Linked DNA regions of Homo sapiens. The protein of the gene in region 3 interacts with the protein of the main gene of each other region in a pairwise test. Each region holds a gene or a part of one and is shown on either strand. Other genes may lie near its edges. The genes, in order: ASB3, ATL1 and PPT1.

Region 1 (3,756 bases), on a different chromosome or scaffold from region 3:
ACTCTGGAAGAATAGAAACTGGTGTCTGTTGGAGTTTAAAGACAGAAGCGTGGATCTGAAGTGGTGCACAAGAAGTATAAGAATGCTAACATTGCCCCCCAGACCTTGCAACAGGTGTAGCAAGGCATGGAAAATGAGAAGATTGTATTTTCAAAATTGGCCAAGGAAGTAATTTCCTTGCAAGAATCAGGCTTTTGTGAGGAGAAGAGGGGGAGGCAGAATGTTCTATACAGAGTTCATGGTAGAATGGGGATTCCCGAGGACTTATCTCTCTTCCCATCCTCCACTTAGCATACATGGCCCAGTGCCTTGTACCTACATATCCGTAGGGGTTACATCAGGATTTCCCAAAGTCGGGTGCATGGGGTTGACTGTGCCACCACATTTGTGGTGTGCTATAGTGAATTTTTGTTCATATGTGATTGCTTAGTGCACCTATAATGATATTTTGTAGTTTTAATTTAACCACTTCTCACAAATTGGTCAAGTGGCTTAAAACGATTTCTGTAAAGAAGTAGTATTTTCTGTAGATAATATTAAAAGTGCAAGCACAAGTGAACCAACATAATCATCGTAGAGCTGCATTCTCTTGTTATTTACCAGGCATGTTATGTGATAAAAATGATGACCACCTGGGTTACCGGGTTGAAGGCGGGATGGTTGTGGGGAAATGAAAAGATGTAGGTCAAAGGGTATAAAGCTGCAGTTTTGTAGGATGAGGAAGTTCTAGAGATCATGAGAACTATAGTTAAAAATACTGTGTTGTGTACTGGTAATTTACCAAGATAGTAAATTTTAGGCACACACATGCACACACACACACACACACCAGCAAGGTAACTATATGAGATGATGGGTATATTAATGTTTGTTTGACTGTAGTAATCACTTCATTATGGTAGGTATATCAACATAAGCATACAAAACATCACATTGTACACTTTAAATATATACAATAAAATAATAAAAATTTTAAAAAGCTAAAAAGAGCTAAAATAAAAATGACTACCACCTAATTGCAACTGACAAATATAAAATTATCAAGAAAATATTTAAAATATAGTCTCACCTTTACTTTAACAGTGAGCCTTGTCCTTAACATGTAGTGTGCCTTGAGATAATTAGCTAATGGAAGAACCATACTCAGCAAGACACTCTAATCTACACATTCGGAACATGAGGGCAAACCCTGTGATTTTTTTTTCTCAATGTTTTAAGTCCTAGGATGCCCAGTGCATTATTTTTTACAAAATTTACTAAACATAATGATAAAGGCTTAGAACTCTTTTTGAGTTTTCTTATTCAATAGCAAAAGACAAAAAGTCACAGACCATTGGGGAAACTCATGTTCCTCCTGCCACAGTAAAACTGGCTGAAATAATATGAGGACAAAACAAAATGCATTCCTTATTAGCAAATGTTGTTAAAGGAGCATAGAAAACACTGCTAAAGCATTAAAGCAGAGTTTTTTTTTAAAAAAAACCTGCAGATAGAAAGTTTGGTGTACTAAGTTGGAAGGAGATTTGTGGTATTTATAACATGTTACAACTTAGGGTATTTGTTAAGATTCTCTTTCAGTGAGAGAATAGGCAATTTTTTAAGAGCTGCTAAAGGAAAAATGCACCAGAAAAGAGATACAGTGAGGTGTATTAACAACGGGGATACAGTCTGAGAAGTGCTTTGTTAGGCGATTTTGTCATTGTGCAAATATTATAAAGTATTCTTATATAAACTAGATGGTAGAGCCTACTACACACCTGAGGCTACATAGTATAGCCTATTGCTCCTAGGCCACAAACTTGTACAGCATGTTACTGTGCTGAATACTATAGGCAGTTGTAACACATTGGTAAGTATTTGTGTTTCTAAACATAGGAAAAGTACAGTAAAAATACAGTATAGGCCGGGCGCGGTGGCTCACACCTGTAATCCCAGCACTTTGGGAGGCTGAGGCGGGTGGATCACCTGAGGTCAGGAGTTTGAGACCAGCCTGGCCAACATGGCGAAATCCTGTCTCTACCAAAAATACAAAAATTAATCGGGCATGGTGGCAGGCGCCTGTAATCCCAGCAACTCGGGAGGCTGAGGCAGGAGAATTGCTTGAACCTGGGAGGCAAAGTTGCAGTGAGCTGAGATCGTGCCACTGCACTCCAGCCTGGTGACAGAGTGAGACTCCGTCTCAAAACAAAACAAAACGAACAAACAAAACAGCACAAAAGATGAAAAATGGTAGATCTGTATAGGGCACTTACTAGGAATGGAACTTGCAGGACTGGAAATTGCTCTGGGTGATATCAATGAGTGAGTGGAGAGTGAATGTGAAGGCCTCAGACATTACTGTATGCTACTGTATACTTTAACGCCATATACTTAGGCCACACTAAATTTATAAAAAAATTAGTTGATGTTATGACACCTGTGACATCACTAGATAATAATAATTTTTCAGCTCCATTATAATCTTGTGGGGCCACCATCGTATATGTGGTCCGTCGTTTACTAAAATATCCTTACGCAGTGTATGCCTGTATTGGCAACAGTAATGGCTTATTTAACAGAATGATGTGTTTTGGAAAAGGTGTGTAAGAATGACCATTGAAGGAGTGGTGGCTGCTTTTCTCCAAATGTAAGGTAATGGAGATAACATGAAATGAGTTTACTACATCATTCATAGGCTAGTATAGGAGAAGAGTTGAATCCAGAATTGCACGAAGTAGTATCACTGTGGATACTTTCCTAAAGCATGACCTTTAAAATATATTAGAGTCTTTGCAGTACTTTATAATGAGGTGGGAGTGACCATAGTTATTGTTTATACATCCATAGTTTTGCTCATTGTCTGTGATACAATATATAAAAGAACCCTTAAGCTCAAAGGTAAATTATGTGCTTTTCTTTTACAAAAATACAGCTTTTCCAATTTTCTTGAGCTTTTTCTTTCTTGGTGATAAATAGCTATGCAACCTACCATGTATTTTGTAAAAATTCTGTTGATTTAGGGAAGAGATGACATTTTAACTGAGTGAGAAGTAACTGCCTTCTGAAAGGAACTCCCCTCCATGCCCTGCAATGCAGGTTAAAGCCAAGCAATGAAAGAAACTTTTGCTATGTGGAGATGATTTTGAAAATAGGTACTAGGAAATATTTTTATTGTTACGTTATTTTCTTGTGAAAAGTAGTATATATCACCTGGAAAAACTCTTTCATTGACATACTTAAAACACTTGGAAATAGTTCCCCTTTGTTTTGAACTCCATTTAGTAAAAATGCAAAACTTTCTGATTAGCTTATAAACTGATTGATATCAGGAAAAAATAGAAATTTACCAGATGAATTTTGACAATAACTTTTTCATAATTGCTAGATAGGCTAGATAGAATCCTGATTTAGTTCAGCTAAGCCACAGTGTACTTCTCCCATTTAGACCTTATTTCAGCTACATCCATGTATCAGAATAAACTGGGCTTAGAACCAACTCTTTGAATTGCTAGATCACTAAGAATTACATTAATAAAGCCTAGTCAATCACCTTGTTCTTGTTAAAATATTAATATTTAAAGGAGTCTTATACCTTTAAAAATGAAATTATTTAAAGTATATATCTTATTTTATATTGGCTTATTTTATTTTATAGTACAAATAATGTTTGGTTAATAGTATACATGTAATTTATATGTAAAATATATATTGGATTCTGTGGTCAGAGACTTTACTAATTTAGTGTGTAATCAAAACATTTGGAGATCACTAGATTCT
Region 2 (3,756 bases), on a different chromosome or scaffold from region 3:
AGTTTAGATTACATATTTTATCAGAATCTTTGAAGAACTCAATTCTGTATTCCTCATAGGTTTTAGCATAACATAAGTCTAGGAGGGTTTTGACATTGACCTCAACCCCTCTTAAATCTTTTGTGGTTGAGGGACTATTTCAGAAAGTGGCTCAGAGGATCCAGTTTTTACTTCATTCATTTCCCATTGTGCTACCACTAGTTTATCTCAGCTAGATCCTTCAAAGGCACGTTACAATTATGTTATAAAGTATATATAAGTAGGGTTTTTTTTTTTTTTTTTGGGAGATGGAGCTTCACTCTTGTTGCCCAGGCTGGAGTGCTGTGGTGCCATCTCGGCTCAGTGCAACCTCCGCCTTCTGGGTTCAAGCGATTCTCCTGCCTCAGCCTCCCGAGTAGCTGGGATTACAGGCATGCGCCACTATGACTGGCTATTTTTGTATTTTTAGTAGAGACGGGGTTTCTCCATGTTGGCCAGGCTGGTCTCAAACTCCCGACCTCAGATGATCCGCCCACTTTGGCCTCGGAAAGTGCTGAGATTACAGGCGTGAGCCACCGCACCTGGCCATAAGTATGTTCTTAATGCTGGAAGAATTGTAGCTATTACCTGCTGCCTACAGGTACAGAGACAATCTGAAGTAATCTGATACTGCTTTTGGAAGTTTTTAACTAAAAAAGAGAATGATATGACAACTTATGATAGTGGTTCAGATAGCTCCTAACAAAGCTAATGCTAATCAAATCATAGGTTGTAAATATGAGATAATGTTAACACAAGTCATAATTAGCTAAATAAAAGCTGTTGTCTCTTACAACTTTTAATAGATATAACATTTTTAGAATAATAAAAAGTAGGCTGGGTGGCTCACGCCTATAATCCCAACGCTTTGGAAGGCTGAGGCGCGCAGATTGCTTGAGGTCAGGAGTTTGAGACCAGCCTGGCCAACATGGTGAAACCCCGTTTCTACAAAAAATACAAAAACTTAGCTGGGGATGGTGGTATGCACCTGTAGTCCCATCTACTCGAGAGGCTGAGGCACAAGAATTGCTTGAGCCTGGGAGGCGGAGGTTGCAGTGAGCTGAGATCACGCCACTGCACTCCAGCCTAGATGACAGAGCAAGACTGCCCCCCTACCCAAAAAAAGAAAAAAAAGTATATATACTACTAAACTGATGTATATTTTTTTAAATGCTGAAATGTTAACTGGAAAATAGTTGTGTAGGACTTCACATTTTACACAGTATTATATAGTTAGTTGCTTGTATCTGGGCAGGTCATAACATTCTTGATGACTGGGGCCCAATTCCTGTTGATCTGTATTTCCAACATCTAATGCAGTGGCTGGCACATGGATGACATTCAAATGTGTGCTGAATTTAGTTGTGAATTAAAGGTGTTCTTACCTGGTCCCACAGAGCTGCAGCCACCTGGTCTATTACAGCTCCCAGCTCTCGGTATTCTCCAGAGTACCGGATATATGCCCAAGTGCACAGGGTGATAAGGGTCAGTCCCATTATCATATTGCATAGGCTAGCTATGATGTCCAAACCAATGAATCCAGTCACACCAGCAATCACATATGTGATAAAGATGACTACAAACAGTGTGGCTGGGGTACGAGCTGCATGGAAGATATTTTTGCTATCATTGTGCTTGATATATTGGATGTAAAGTTCATCTATTTCACTCTCCAACTGCTGCAGGTAACGCCGGCTAAATTCTTCCCCACCCATCTTCTTCACCCCTCGGAATAGCTTCACAGATTCTTCCTTAAGTTGCAGGTGTTTGGTCTGCAAGTCATTTGGGGCCAGAAATGGTTTGTCACCACCACAAATCTGTATCAGATAGAGAAGTATTTGTTTATGCAATGCAGAGTAAAATTGGCAACTGTATCAAAATTTTTCACTTAGCTAGTTGAGTTTGTTAGAATACGTTAATAATCAGGAGCCTGCATATATGTTTTGTCAGCCCACATCTTTCCACCCCCTATCCACGAGGCATGACTATAAATGGGACTGGTATTTTATAGGTGGCTTAAAATCATTTTAAATTTTTCTCTTTTTGACATGGAAAATAATATTTATCACTTAATCCAAGTCCTTCAAGATGAAAAGACGTGTGACACAACATGAAGTGCAAACTGAGTTCATTCACAGAATGAATCCAAATCTAAGAAAACTACGTATATCCAAATTCTAGGAAATCTAACTACACTGAAGTCATGTTAACCAATGAGGTTTAATAAACAATGATCAATGCTATAAAGCTCTCAAAGTAAACTGTGAAATACATTCTTTAGCAGTTTTACTGATTTTTATTTGAATGGAGCCAATTGAGTATTTTCTTCCAGAAACTAAGTTAGGAGTATATTAAATGTTCTTGAATAACATTTTCAATTTTTTGAAAAGTTACAAGGGTAATCTCAGTTAACCATACCATTCACTTTGGTTACAGGCATGCCTCAGAGATAATACATGTTTGGTTCCAGACCACTGCAATAAGCAAGTCACATGATTTTTTTTATTTCCTAATTCATATAAAAGTTATGTTTACATTATGTAGCAGTCTAGTAAAGTGTGCAGTAGCATATCTAAAAACCATGTACATAATTTAAGAACACTTTATTGCAAAAAATGCTAAGGATCATCTGAGCCTTCAGCACATCAATCTTTTTGCTGGTGGAGGCTCTTGCCTCGATGTCGATGGCTGCTGACTGATTAGGGTGGTGTTGCTGAAGGTTGAGGTGGCTGTGGCAATTTCTTAAAATATGACAACAGTAAAGTTTGCCATATTGATAGACTTCCTTTCATGAAAGATTTCTCTGTAGCCTGGGATGCCATTTGACAGCATTTTACTCATAGTAGAACTTCTTTAAAAATTGGAGTCAATCCTCTCTAACCCTGCCAATGCTTTATCAACTAACTTTATTTCATATTTTAAAGCCCTGGAAAGGAAAAGAGTAGGGGGAAGGGGATGAAGAGAGGTTGATTAATGGGTACAAATAAAGCAGTTAGAAGAAATAAGACAGTGTTCAATAGCTCAGTAGGGTGACTGTAATTAGCAATAATCTACTGTACATTTCAAAATGGCCAGAAGAGAATAATTCGAATGTTCCTAGCATAAAGAAATATTAAGGTGATAAATACCACACTTTCCCTGATTTGATCTTTACACATTATATGGATGTATCAATTTATCATATGTACTCCAAAAATATGTACATCTATTATGTACCAATAAAAAATATTCTAAACCCTTTGTTGTCATTTCAACACTGTTCACAGCATCTTCGCTAGGAGTAGATTCCATCTCCAGAAACCACTGTCTTTGCTTATCCATAGGAAGCAACTCCTTATCCGTTAAGAGAATACAAAATTGAGTCACATCTTCAGGCTCCACTTTTAAGTTCTCTTGCTGTTTGCACCACACATGCACTTCCTTCCTCCACTGAAGTCTTGGACCCCTCTCAAAGTCATCCAGAAGGGTTGGTATCAACTTTTTCCACATTCTTGTTGATATTTTTGCCTCCTATAAACCACAGATTCTCTTCATGGCATCCAGAATGGTGAATTTCTCCTGGAAGGTTTTCAATGTACTTTGCCCAGATCCATCAAAAGAATCACTATCTATGGCAGCTATAGCCTTACAAAATGTATTTCTTATTAACTTTTGAAAGTCAAAATTACTCCTTGATCCTGGGCTGTAGAATGGATATTGTGTTAGCAGGCATGAAAACATTAATTTCCTTAAATACAT
Region 3 (3,756 bases):
CTCACCTAGCCTTTAACTACTAGCTGTATGCCGAAGACTCCCTACTTAAATCTCCAACCCGTATCTCTGTCCTAGACTCCACACTCCAAATGCCTCTACAACATCTCCTGGGTGTCTCATGAGGATCTCAAGTTTAGTAAGCCCAAAAGCAGACTCTTGATCTTTCCCCCACCCTAAGTCAGCTTGTCCTACAGGCTTCCCCATCTTGGTAAAATGAAAACTTCACCCTTCCAATTGTTCAGGCCAAAACCTGTGGAGTCATCTTTGGCTCCTTTCTTTCTCTCTTATTCCAAGTCTGATCTGTTAGCAATCCACCTTCAAAATCTATCCAAACTTTGACCACTTCTCAACACCTCTACTGTTACTCTACAGTTCCAAGTCATCATCTCTTGTTTAAATTATTGCAATAGTTTCCTAACCTGTCTCCCTGTGACCATCCATGACGCCCTACGATCTATTCTTAATACAGCAACTAAAGTGATTCTTTAAAAATGTGTCAGATCATGTCACTCATCTGCTCAAAAAGTTCCCCATGACACTCTAGCCAAAGTCCCTGCATTAGTCTTACTAGGCCCAATAACTTCTGTACCTGCCCCTCCCTTCCAAACTAAACTCCTAACTTCTTCCCCTTGCTTACTCATTTCCAGCCACGCTGATCTGAATGCTGTCCCTTGAACACACCAGACATACTTCCACATCAGGGCTTTCCCATTTACTGTTCCTTCTACCAGACAGCCAAATGGCAACTGTCCTCATCTACCTCAGTTTTGTACTCAGATGTCACTTTTTCAATGAATTCTTTCCCAACTTTGCTTTATTAAAAGTGCAAGCCCCCACCTCCAGTTTTTATCCTACACCCTACTATATTTTTCTCTGTTGCACATATCACCATTTGATATGTTATGTTTTACTTGTTAATTTCTTTATAATCTGCTTCTCCTACTGGAGAGTAGGTTCCAAAAGAACAAAGAATTTAGTCTGTTTAGTTCCCTACTGTATCCTCAGCACCTAGTAGGTGCTCAATAACTGTGTTAAATGAATATAGGTTGAGCATCCTAATCTGAAAATGGGAAACCCAAAATCTGAAAGTTTTTCAGCGCAGACATGATGCCACAAGTGGAAAATTCCACACCTGACCTCATGTGATGGGTTGCACAAAATTATTTAAAATATTGCATAAAATTACCTTCCAGCTATGTGTATAAGGTGTATATGAAAAATAAATAAATTTCCTGTTTACACTTGGGTCCCACCCCCCAGATCTCTTGTATATATGCAAATATTAAAAAAAAAAAAATCCGAAATGCTTCCCAGTCCCAAGCATTTCAGATAAGGGTTACTCAATTTGTAAATGAACTGTAGGTGCCTAACAAATCTCTGTTCAATGTGTGAAGGAATAAATAAAAGGGTAGATGCGCCAGTCATATAGCCAGCCGCAGCTCACCTAGCCTGACCAAGTGAGAGATGCTGCATCCTGACGCCACTACTGTAAGGATTAATCAAGGACAGCATGTAAAACTTCAACGCCGTGCGCGGCTCTCTCTTTCCTTCCCCTTCTCTCTTTCCAGTGAAGGGGACGGCTCCTTCCCCTTCTCTCTTTCCAATGCAGATCCTTCAAATCCTAAAATGTCGAGGCAGCCGCGTGCTGTGGGACCACGTCCTCGCCCTCTACACCCGCATTTTGCAGATGCGAACCCAGGCTAGGAAGAGAGAGAATCGCCAAACCCTTTTAAATTTCTCACTCACTCACCCATCCCATGCCAGATCACCAACGGCAGCGGCGCCGGCGGGTCCAGATGCTGCAGCGCCCGAGAAGCGCAGGTCCATGGCAGGAGAGCCACAGCCAAGAGCCACAGGCAGCCGGGCGACGCCATCTTCGCTGTGTCACATGACCGCGGGCGCGAGACTCCGGGAACCGCGCTCCGCCCGCCTGGGCGTGGCGCCGCCGGTTGCAGATCGCAACCTGCGCATCCCGAACGGATGCCCAGCCTGATGGGCGTCGGCCCTACCCTGGAGCTTTCAGCGCGACAGGTCCCCCGCCAGACCCCGCTGGCCGAGTGGGGCTCTGCGCTCTCGTAGACCGCCCTCTGCGGTGAATCAAAATAATTGCTAACATATATTCAGTGCTGATCAGATGCTATCAGGCACTATTCTTACAACCTTTAACTAATTCACTCTTCATAACAATGCTGTATGCACTTCTCCCCCTGACAGGTGAGGACACTGAGGCACTGCGAATTGGCACTGAGTAAGGTGCCCAAGGTCACAGAGATAGCAAATTGGTGGTTCCAAAGTCGTTGCTCTTCACCACTGCCCTGTACTGCCTTTGCAAGAAACATGCACAGAGGAAGGAAGAAAGAAGGAGGGACGGTTTCCAGCCAGGACCAATCATGGCAGGGTGTGGGGTTTGTTCTGGATATTGAAGGAGAGGTAGGATTTCAACAAGCAAAGATGAAATTCAGAAGGACTGAGATGAGCTAAGGTAGAGAGGAGAAAGACAACTGTGTTTTCTAGAAATGTCGGGACTTCAAGACGGACGAAAGCATATGTTGGATGCATAAGAGTGAGGGGGAAACCCATGGCCACTAACTGGCCTAATCTCAGCTGGATTATTTCAAGGGTCTCTCATCAACCATTTCCTTTTCCATTCTCTCCTCTTTAATTCATTTTATGCTCTATTGCCACATTCATCCCTCAATCCACCTTCATAATATCAGTTCCCTGCTCAAGTTTTTTTTCAACAAAACATCAAAAAATAGTTTAAATAATTTATAAAGAAATTAGAGTGTATCCACTATACAATGGAATAATATGAGGCCAGTTTTATAAAAAATGAGTATAGGGCCGGGCGCGGTGGCTCACTCCTGTAATCCCAGCACTTTGGGAGGCTGAGGTGGGCAGATCATCTAAGGTAGCGAGTTCGAGACCAGCCTGACCAACATGGAGAAATCCCGTCTCTACTAAAATTACAAAATTAGCCGGGTGTGGTGGCGCATACTTGTAATCCCAGCTACTCAGGAGGCTGAGGCAGGAGAATCTCTTGAACCCGGGAGGCAGAGGTTGCGGTAAGCTGAGATCATACCATTGTACTCCAGCCTGGGCAACAAGAGCAAAACTCTGTCTCAAAAAATAAGAATAAAAAATAAATAAAAAGAGAGTACAGCCCAGGCAGCATAGCAAGACCCCATCTCTACAAAAAAAAAATTTTTTTTTAATTAGCCAGGGGTGGTGGTATGTGCCTGTAATCCTAGCTACTGGGGAGGCTAAGGTGGGAGGATCACTTGAGCCCAGGAGTTCAAGGCTGCATTGAGCTATGATCTCGCCATTGCACTGAGCTATGATCTCGCTGTTGCCCTGGGCAACAGTGAGACCCTGTCTCTCTCAAAAAAGAAAAATGAGGTAAATTTACATAAAGTGACATGAAAAATGCCCTTAATATGTTGTAAAAGAAAAGTCGATTACAAACCCACGGTCTGTAATCTCTTCTATTCCATGCCATTGGGACTAGAGGTAAGTTGTTAGTTGAAAAGTCGATTAAAATGCAGAATCCACTGGGCGCACTTTGGGAGGCTGAGGCAGGTGGATCACCTGAGGTTGGGAGTTTGAGACCAGCCTGGCCAACATGATGAAACCCCATCTCTACTAAAAATACAAAAAATTAGCCGGGCATGGTGGTGGGTGCCTGTAATCCCAGCTACTCAGGAGGCTGAGACAGGAGAATCACTTGAACCCAGGAGGCAGAGGGTGCAGTGAGCC

What was found.
Region 1: the proteins of PPT1 (region 3) and ASB3 interact in binary tests that used the Homo sapiens proteins (3 or more experiments, as listed by UniProt).
Region 2: the proteins of PPT1 (region 3) and ATL1 interact in binary tests that used the Homo sapiens proteins (3 or more experiments, as listed by UniProt).

What each region holds. Positions count from the first base shown.
Region 1 is NC_000002.12:53,675,214-53,678,969, reverse strand, and holds part of ASB3 (ankyrin repeat and SOCS box protein 3), read left to right. Parts: intron 1-3,756. UniProt on the Homo sapiens protein: Probable substrate-recognition component of a SCF-like ECS (Elongin-Cullin-SOCS-box protein) E3 ubiquitin-protein ligase complex which mediates the ubiquitination and subsequent proteasomal degradation of target proteins. Recognizes TNFRSF1B.
Region 2 is NC_000014.9:50,626,110-50,629,865, reverse strand, and holds part of ATL1 (atlastin-1), read right to left. Parts: intron 1,836-3,756; coding exon 1,404-1,835; intron 1-1,403.
Region 3 is NC_000001.11:40,095,365-40,099,120, forward strand, and holds the start of PPT1 (palmitoyl-protein thioesterase 1 isoform 1 precursor), read right to left. Parts: upstream 1,889-3,756; 5' UTR 1,875-1,888; coding exon 1,751-1,874; intron 1-1,750. UniProt on the Homo sapiens protein: Has thioesterase activity against fatty acid thioesters with 14 -18 carbons, including palmitoyl-CoA, S-palmitoyl-N-acetylcysteamine, and palmitoylated proteins. In contrast to PPT2, PPT1 can hydrolyze palmitoylated proteins and palmitoylcysteine.